Linked DNA regions of Homo sapiens. The protein of the gene in region 2 purifies or fractionates together with the protein of the main gene of each other region. This does not show direct contact. Each region holds a gene or a part of one and is shown on either strand. Other genes may lie near its edges.

Region 1 (3,809 bases), on a different chromosome or scaffold from region 2:
CTGAATCATTAGATGTTGGCTCTGGGAGATATTATGACTCTCTTTGCAAACATCAAAGAGGGCTTTTTTTTTTTCCCCCTCCGTGTATGGATTTCTCTCATGGAGATGGTAGGAATGAGACCTCTTGTGTTTTCTCCAAGCCCAGAGGGCTTGTTCCTAGACCCGAAATGCCTCTAACTCAGAGGGAAGCTGAAGATCATAGGATTGAGGGGCCCAGGATGGTGTTGTCCAGGGTGTTGCTGCCCAAAGAAGGCAGCCAGTGCCGGCAAGGCTGAATGAAAGTGAATTAACTCAGAGCAGGCGCGAGTGAAGAAGAAAAAGGGAAAGTGATTTTGTTAGCCTTTGTATGTAACACCTGTATGTGTCGGTATTTTCGTGGCCACATTTTGGTTTAACAGTACAGTCCCATTTAAGTGATGCCCTGATGTCACGAGACTGGATGCTTGCCCCTTTCTTTTTAAAATTAAATTGAATTTTTTTGAAACAGGGTCTCACTCTGTCACCCAGGCTAGAGTGCAGTGGCACCATCATGTCTCACTGCAGCCTTGACCTTCTAGGCTCAAGCAACCCTCCTGCAGTCTCCCAAGTAGCTGGGACTACAGACATGCACCACTCTACCTGGCTAATTTTTAATTCTTTTGTAGAGATGGCGTCTTGCTTTGTTGCCCGAGCTGGTTTGGAACGCCTGGGCTCAAGAGATCCTCCCACCTTGGCCTCCCAGAGTGTTGGGACTTCAGGTGTGAGCCACCGTGCCTGGCCAATGCCTGCCCCTTCTGTGGGGGTCTGTTGCTGCCTGCGAGCGGTGGAGATGGGGGAGTGTGTGTGTGCGGCCAGGACTGTTGTGCTGACTGGCGTCCTGTTGCCAGCTCTTTGTGCTGTGGGTGGAATAAGGGCCCTCAACGGATAGACAGAGCCCAGGGTTTGAGTCCTCTCTGATGCCTGCTTCCTTGTGATCTGGAGACCACATAGCCTTTCTGGGGCTCGATTTCCTCATCTGTGAATGCAGGTTAGGAACTTTCTTGTAGTGTCGCTGTAAAAATGTGATAAGATGGCGATGAAAAAATGCCTGCCTTCCAGAAGGTGTTAATCGGGTGTCATCTACTTCCTTCCTCCACACTGAACTGACCGGGGCAGGTTTTGAGACCCACCTGCAGGTCCCGTGCTAGTGGTTCATCCCCATGTCTATTCACACCTCTTCCTTGGTGCCCACATAGGTTTTGTCATTAGGTCAAGGTCACATAAGTGGTTGGCAGCAAGGCCAAGATTCTTGACACTCCTTATCCCAACCCCAAGCCTGTGCTGTCTACGACACCCCCTGCTTCTTCTGGAACTCTCCCTGAAGTCAGTGGAAACCTTCCAAAGAAGTAGCTGAGAGAAGCCAAAAACAGACCGACTGCCCGAGTCACAGCTTGGCTCGTCATCTCGCCGACCAGCAAGGAAGGGTGCTCTCATGGCTGCGGCGAGCAGCAGAAGCAAGTGCCCCTCACCCCCGACCCAGGGAGCCTGGAGTGCAGGGCCGTGGGTGAGGGGGCGGGGGAGGGGGAAGGGCAGCACGGGGAAGACAGGAGAAGAGTGGAGGAGATATGGAAGAGGGAGTGTGGAAGGAGGGCAGAGAGGAGGAGGCGGGACATGCAGCTGGAATGCCGCAGGAGGGAGAGGCACTCAGTCGAGGGCCTTGGTCCTACGCCGAGGCCAAGTGCAGTAAAAGGAGCAAAGGCTGGGATTCAATGCGATGCTTCCTGCTCACAAATTGTGTGACTTTGCCCTGACCGTGTCTCTGTGTGTGCGTGTGTCTCTCCCTGTCTGGGGGTTGCTGTGAGGATCAAATGGGAAATGAGCTAACGTGTACAACACATCCAGCCCAGTGCCCGGGCAGAGTGCCCCCCGAGGGCCCCTTCCCTCCTCTCCACCCGGTTACCTCATCTGACTGCTCTGAGGATGAAATGAGAGGAGGCACTGGCGAAACAGGATTTACTCCGTACAGATCCGTTTCCCTCCCCCTCCCTTAAAAACAGGCTCCCAAACTGGTAAAGGTTCCTTGTGAGAGAGTGAGAATGGAAGTGGGCGATAAATTGCCTCGTTTCACTCGGCGACTGTTTCCCAATTCTCTCTTGCTACTGCTGTACTCTCGCAGTGTTTACCCGAGTTCTGGTGTACAGTTGTAGAAAATAGATCCTTTGATGGTTTTGTCGAAATATCTTGGGAGCCAGAGGAATTCAGGCCAAGTTAGTCATCCTTTGTGAAACTACAATCAGGAGGCGATGTTTATCTTGCCCAACCAGACCCTGCACTAAAATACATTGTACAATTAGATGTTTTTGAAAAATGGGGATTGTGGTTTCTCTGTAGGCCGGGGTTGGGCAAGTCTGCTCTTTTAAGAGTGTAATATGTATTCATCAAAATGCTGGAGGTGGCTGGTGGAATAGGCTTTGGGGGCCCAAGTCAGTTATGATCACGGTTGTGATGGGCAGGGAGTGGTGTAGCTGTGGTGGCCTAGATTAAAATCTTCATCCCAGCATCACCAGTAGAACTCTCCGCGGCGATGGAAATGTTTTATTTCTGTGTTCTCTGATGCAGCAGCCACGTATTTGAGCACTTGAAAGGTGGCTTGTGTAACTGACAAACTGAATTTTTGGTTCCATTTAATTTAAAGTAACTTAGATTTGGATTTAAATAGCCACATATGGTTTGTGGCTACCACATTGGATAACATAACATTATATAGATAGCAGTATCCCATGAGCAGCTGCTTCAAACAGGCGAGTCTCGCATGAGTGCACTTTCCAGCCATGCCCAGGGTGGCTTGATGTGACCACAGAGACGTTACTTTCCACTAGCAAGTGAAACTGGGTTGAGCGGGTGAGGACTTTGCTCACTGGAGGGGCTGCAGGAGAACTGGGGAGAATTTGTGGGGGAGCAGAAAAGGAGAGGGTATGGGCTGGGCACAGTAGCTCACACCTGTAATTCCAGCACTTTGGGAGGCAGAGGCGGGTGGATCACTTGAGGTCAGGAGTTCGAGACCAGCCTGGCCAACGTGGCGAAACCCCGTCTCTACTAAAAATACAAAAATTAGCTGGGCGTGGTGGTGCACGCTGGTAATCCCAGCTACTTAGGAGGCTGAGGCAGGAGAATCACTTGAACCCTGCAGGTGGAGGTTGCAGTGAGCCAAGATCACGCCACTGCACTCCAGCCTGGGCGACAGAGTGAGACTTGGTCTCAAAAAAAAAAAAAAAAAAAAAAAAAAAAAGTAAGAAAGAAAAGGAGAGGGTGTGGTACAAGCCACAGCTCGGCACTGGAACCTCCCTCCAGCCTGGGGCTTTCGGTTCCTGACCAGTTTCAGTCAGTCCTGCCCTTAACCTCCTCCTCACTAGATGTCCCAGGAGCAAGATAAGTAGTCGGTAATAAAGAGACACAAATGTGGTCTCCAAGGAACTCATCGTGGGTTAGTCTCCACCGAGCCCCCTGAGGGTAGGACTGTGTTTGAAGAATATACGGATGGATGAGTACGTTGGTTTTGGTAGCTGGTGGGTGAGATAATGATGCCCTAATGCAATTCTTTGGTCTTCCTTAATAACAAAGGGATCCTTGTGAGTTCACATCAGCAGTGTATGGTGGTCGGGCAGTGGGGCCGTTGGCAAATGGGAGAAGCTCAGCCTGGTTCATGCCTACTGCTCTTGTTTCCCCTTCTTCCTTCTCTTGATGCTTCCCTTCCCAATCTCCAAGTCCCCAGTAGATGTCCTAGGGCTGGGCCAAATCAGATGAAGTGCCCAGTTTAGCCCTGGAAGATGAAAAATGACCTCTTTTCTTCC
Region 2 (4,396 bases):
ACAGGCGCATGCCACCACACCCAGCTAATTTTTAAAAGTTTTTATTATTGATGAGGTCTTACTATGTTGCCCAGGCTGGTCTTGAACTCCTGGACCCAAGTGATCTCTTGCCTCGGTCTCCCAAAGTGCTGGGATTACAGGTGTGAGCCACCACACCCGGCCTCTTTCTATTTTTCTAATTTAACACTTTTTTGGCCAGGTGCGGTGGAGACAGAGACCATCCTGGCTAACACGGTGAAACCCCATCTCCACTAAAAATACAAAAAATTAGCCGGGCATGGTGGCAGGCACCTGTAGTCTCAGCTACTAGGGAGGCTGAGGCAGGAGAATGGCGTGAACCTGGGAGGCGGAGCTTGCAGTGAGCTGAGATCGCGCCACCGCACTCCAGCCTGGGTGACAGAGTGAGACTCCGACAACTCGCTCTTGTTGCCCAGGCGGGAGTGCAATGGTGCAACCTTGGTCATCCTGGGAGGATCCCTTAAGCCCAGGAGGCAGAGGTTGCAGTGAACCGAGATCATGCCACCAACTCCAGCCTGGGCGACAGAGTGAGACTCTGTCTCAAACAAAACAAAACAATAATTTTGCTCTAAGCAGACGTATACAGAGTAGGCATGAGGCCCTGTTCTCCTCACTCTTCCCTTCAACAGACACTTGAGCTCTTGTGTTTGGGTGAAGGTCTCCGGGGCTATCCATTTCTGTAGAGCTGGAGCCGTCTAAGTAGCTGCCACTTTGTAAAGAGATGTTTCCCTTTAGGCATCAGTTAACAAAAAGCATGTGTTTAGAGGCCAGGCACAGTGACTCATGCCTGTAATTCCAGCACTTTAGGAGGCCGATGAGGGCGGATCATTTGAAGTCAGGAGTTCGTGACCAGCCTGGCCAACATGGTGAAACCCTTCTCTACGAAAAATACAAAAATTAGCCGAGTGTGCTGGTACGCACCTGTAATCCCAGCTACTTGGGAGGCTGAGGCAGGAGAACTGCTTGAGTAGACAGAGGTTGCAGTGAGCCAAGTGTGCCCCGCTGCACTCCAGCCTGGGCGACAGAGTGAGGTTCTCTCTCAAATAAAAATAAAGAGTGCGTTTAGAGGCAGGAGGGCTGCTTGGTCACAATGCTATGAAGTGACATTTGGCAGCAGAGCCCTTTTGACATGTTAGGGTACGAAGGGCGATGGGGGTGGATCAGACAGATTCGTGAATCACCCCTGCACAGAGGGCACAGACTGCAAACGCATGGAAGAGCAGGGCCACACCACCCCCACCCAGCCCCCACTCACTGTCTGTCCAGGGCAGTCTGTGGCAGGACCCACCTGGGCCACTGCGATGGCCACACGTGTTGTCCTCACCCCAACAAGGCAACCAGAGTATCTCAGGGTATGAGGCTGCCAGAAGACTTGATCCCCGACCCCTCAACACATACCACCCTCCACTCTGGTAAGAACTGCAACCCAGGACTAGGGTAGGACTTGGACTAGGAGCGGTAAGTTACTGCTGCTTTGTGTTTGCTCATGTCTAGGGAGTGCATGTCCTCAGGGAGGGGCTACCTGGTTAGAGGGGAAAAAAACCTGCTTTTAGTTCTATCTTCGGAATTAGGAAGTAAACCTTCAATCAGATTAAACAGCACTGAGCTAAAAATAATGGAGCAGTGATATGATGACAACAGATCAAGCTGTTGCTGAGACAGAAAATGTCAAGGGGAGGAGGGTGCTAATTTTAGATGAAGGACCACCAAGAAATGTTACTGGGGGAACTCATTTAACTGGGGTCTGGAAGACTAGGAGGGGTCACCTCCTTCCATACGCAGAATAAGCCCTGTTCCTCGGGGACCTGGGGCACCCGGCTCACTACGCCGCAGCCATGCCAGCCTTCTCTCTGTTCCCCCGCCTGGGAGTTTCTCCTCAGGGATCTGTGGCTGCTTCTCTCCTCCAGCAGGTTTCAGTTCAAATGTTAACTCTTTTTTGTTGTTGCTGTTGTTTGCGACAGAGTCTCCCTCTGTTGCCCAGCCTGGAGACCAGTGGCGCGATCTCGGCTCACTGCAAGCTCCGCCTCCCGGGTTCACGCCATTCTCCTGCCTCAGCCTCCCGAGTAGCTGGGACTACAGGCGCCCGCCACCACGCCCGGCTAATTTTTTGTATTTTTAGTAGAGACAGGGTTTCACCGTGTTAGCCAGGATGGTCTCGATCTCCTGACCTCGTGATCCGCCCGCCTCGGCCTCCCAAAGTGCTGGGATTACAGGCGTGAGCCATTGCGCACGGCCAAATGTTAACTCCTTACAGAGCCTCCCCTGACCGCCAAGGCTACCCTAACCCCCTAACTCTCACAATTTTATTTCCTTGGTTTATTCTGTGCGAGGCCCTTGTCAAAACCAGAAGTTATTTTGCTGCGTTATTGCCTGTTACACTAACGCCTCACCTCTATTACAATTCATGCTCCTGGAGGCGAGGCGGGCTGTTCGCTCACTGCGGGGTCCCCAGCACCGGAACGCTCACAGTTAAATACCCAACAGCTATTTACGAAATGACTGTTGGTCCAATAAATGCCCCAACCCGGGGAGGGGGCAAAACTGCGCAGGGTAAATGAACGCTGCGGGAAACGGCGTCCGCCGGGGAGCGAGGCTGCCGGGAAGAGCCCGCCATCGGACGGAAGCGAGGGGCAGAGCCTGGTCCTCCCCGGAGCAGCCCCACCTCGCCAGGCCTCCCCGCCTGCAGCCTCATCTCTGCGCAACCGTCCGGCTCGGCGGAGCGGGTCTCGGGGGCCCGGCCGCACGCCCCCGACCACAGCCAGCATGGACCGGGGCGCAGGGCCCTTCGCCCCGATAAGGGTTCGGAACCCAAGGCGAGCGGAGGCGACAGTGACGGCTGCGGGTCCGCTCCCTGCCGAGCTCCGCGCGCCCACTGCGGGGGCTACAGCCTCCACCAGGCCGGGCTCGGAGGACCGCGCCCCTCCCAGTCCCCGCCCCGCGGCCGCGGCCGACTCACCCTGGGCCGCCGAGACAGCGCGGGGAGGAGCGCACGGCGCCCGGCTCTCAGGCTCCGGTTCCTTCCCCGCCCCCGGAAACGGCCGCTGCGCCGCTCTGGGAGGCCTGGAGGACCGCGCGCCTCGATGGCGCTCGCGTCTCGACGGCTTCTAGCCCCTGCGGCGCGGCGGTCGCCAGGGCCCCAGCTAGGGGCGCGCCTGGGGGGTTCCGGGCCAGACCGGGTATCAGTCCCAGGCCCGACGGGCGCGGAAGGGCGTCGACGTTCTCGGCGCTCCGTTTCCCCCGGGATCGGAGGCAGCGAACGTTCACCCCTTGCGCCCACTCTCTGCCCCCGGGTGGCCTGCGGGGGTTGGGGAGCACGGTGGGGGATCGACTCCCGGACCCGCAGGAAGGGCGGAGCGGGGGCGTCCGGCCAGGGTCGGTCTCATATAAATTTATGACATTGTTTAGTATGACTTTTTTTTTTTTTTTTGAGCCTGAGTCTCGCTCTTGTTCCCCAGGCTGGAGTGCAATGGTGTGATCTGGGCTCACTGCAACCTCCGCCTCTCAGGTTCAAGCGATTCTCCTACCTGAGCCTCCGGAGTAGCTGGGACTACAGGTTCCCACCACCACGCCCGACTAATTTTTGTATTTTTAGTAGAGACGGGGTTTAACCATGTTGCCCGGGCTGATCTCGGACTCCTGATCTCAGGTGACCCGCCCGCCTCGGCCTCCCAAAGTGCTGGGATTACAGGCGTGAGCTACCGCACCGGGCCAGTTTCTGGGATCTTGAAGTGTCTTTGCTGCTCCCTCTGATCACTCTCAGACCACCTCTCCTGTCTGCACCCAAGGGTGGCCATTCTGACTTCTAACAGCCCTGTGACTTCTGTAAACATTTGTATGCTCTTTGTATTTACTAATTTAATCCTCATGGTAATCCTATCAAAATACTACTGTTCCCATACTAAAATGAGGAGAGCATAGTGTCCCTGTTATTTGCCAAGGTCTAGTCTCTTTTTTTGAGACGGAGTTTCACTGTTGTTGCCCAGGCTGGAGTGCAATGGTGCCATCTTGGCTCAACATTATCTCCACTTCCCAGGTTCAGGTGATTCTCCTGCCTCAGCCTCCCGAGCAGCTGGGATTACAGGCATGCGCCACCACGCCCGGCTAATTTTGTATTTTTAGTAAGGAGGGGGTTACTCCATGTTGGTCAGGCTGGTCTCTAACTCCCGACCTCAGATGATCTGCCAGCCTCGACCTCCCAAAGTGCTGGGATTACAGGCGTGAGCCACTGTGCCTGGCCAAGGTCTCATCTCTTAAGTAACAGAGCTGGGATCCAACCCACAGACCTGGCTCCAAGTCACATATTCTTTAGCCACTAAACTGTGTTGTGAAACCATCATGCAAGTGGGAGGAACAGTTCAATATATGAAACTCGGTGTTT

What was found.
Region 1: the proteins of ZNF517 (region 2) and LIPC purify together in Homo sapiens (affinity purification with mass spectrometry; one large-scale study listed by BioGRID and IntAct). This does not show direct contact.

The regions. Positions count from the first base shown.
Region 1 is NC_000015.10:58,550,264-58,554,072, reverse strand, and holds part of LIPC (hepatic triacylglycerol lipase precursor), read right to left. Parts: intron 1-3,809. UniProt on the Homo sapiens protein: Catalyzes the hydrolysis of triglycerides and phospholipids present in circulating plasma lipoproteins, including chylomicrons, intermediate density lipoproteins (IDL), low density lipoproteins (LDL) of large size and high density lipoproteins (HDL), releasing free fatty acids (FFA) and smaller lipoprotein particles.
Region 2 is NC_000008.11:144,797,516-144,801,911, reverse strand, and holds the start of ZNF517 (zinc finger protein 517), read right to left. Parts: upstream 3,000-4,396; 5' UTR 2,975-2,999; exon of another isoform or gene 2,425-2,974; coding exon of another isoform or gene 2,409-2,424; intron 1,057-2,408; exon of another isoform or gene 940-1,056; intron 1-939. UniProt on the Homo sapiens protein: May be involved in transcriptional regulation.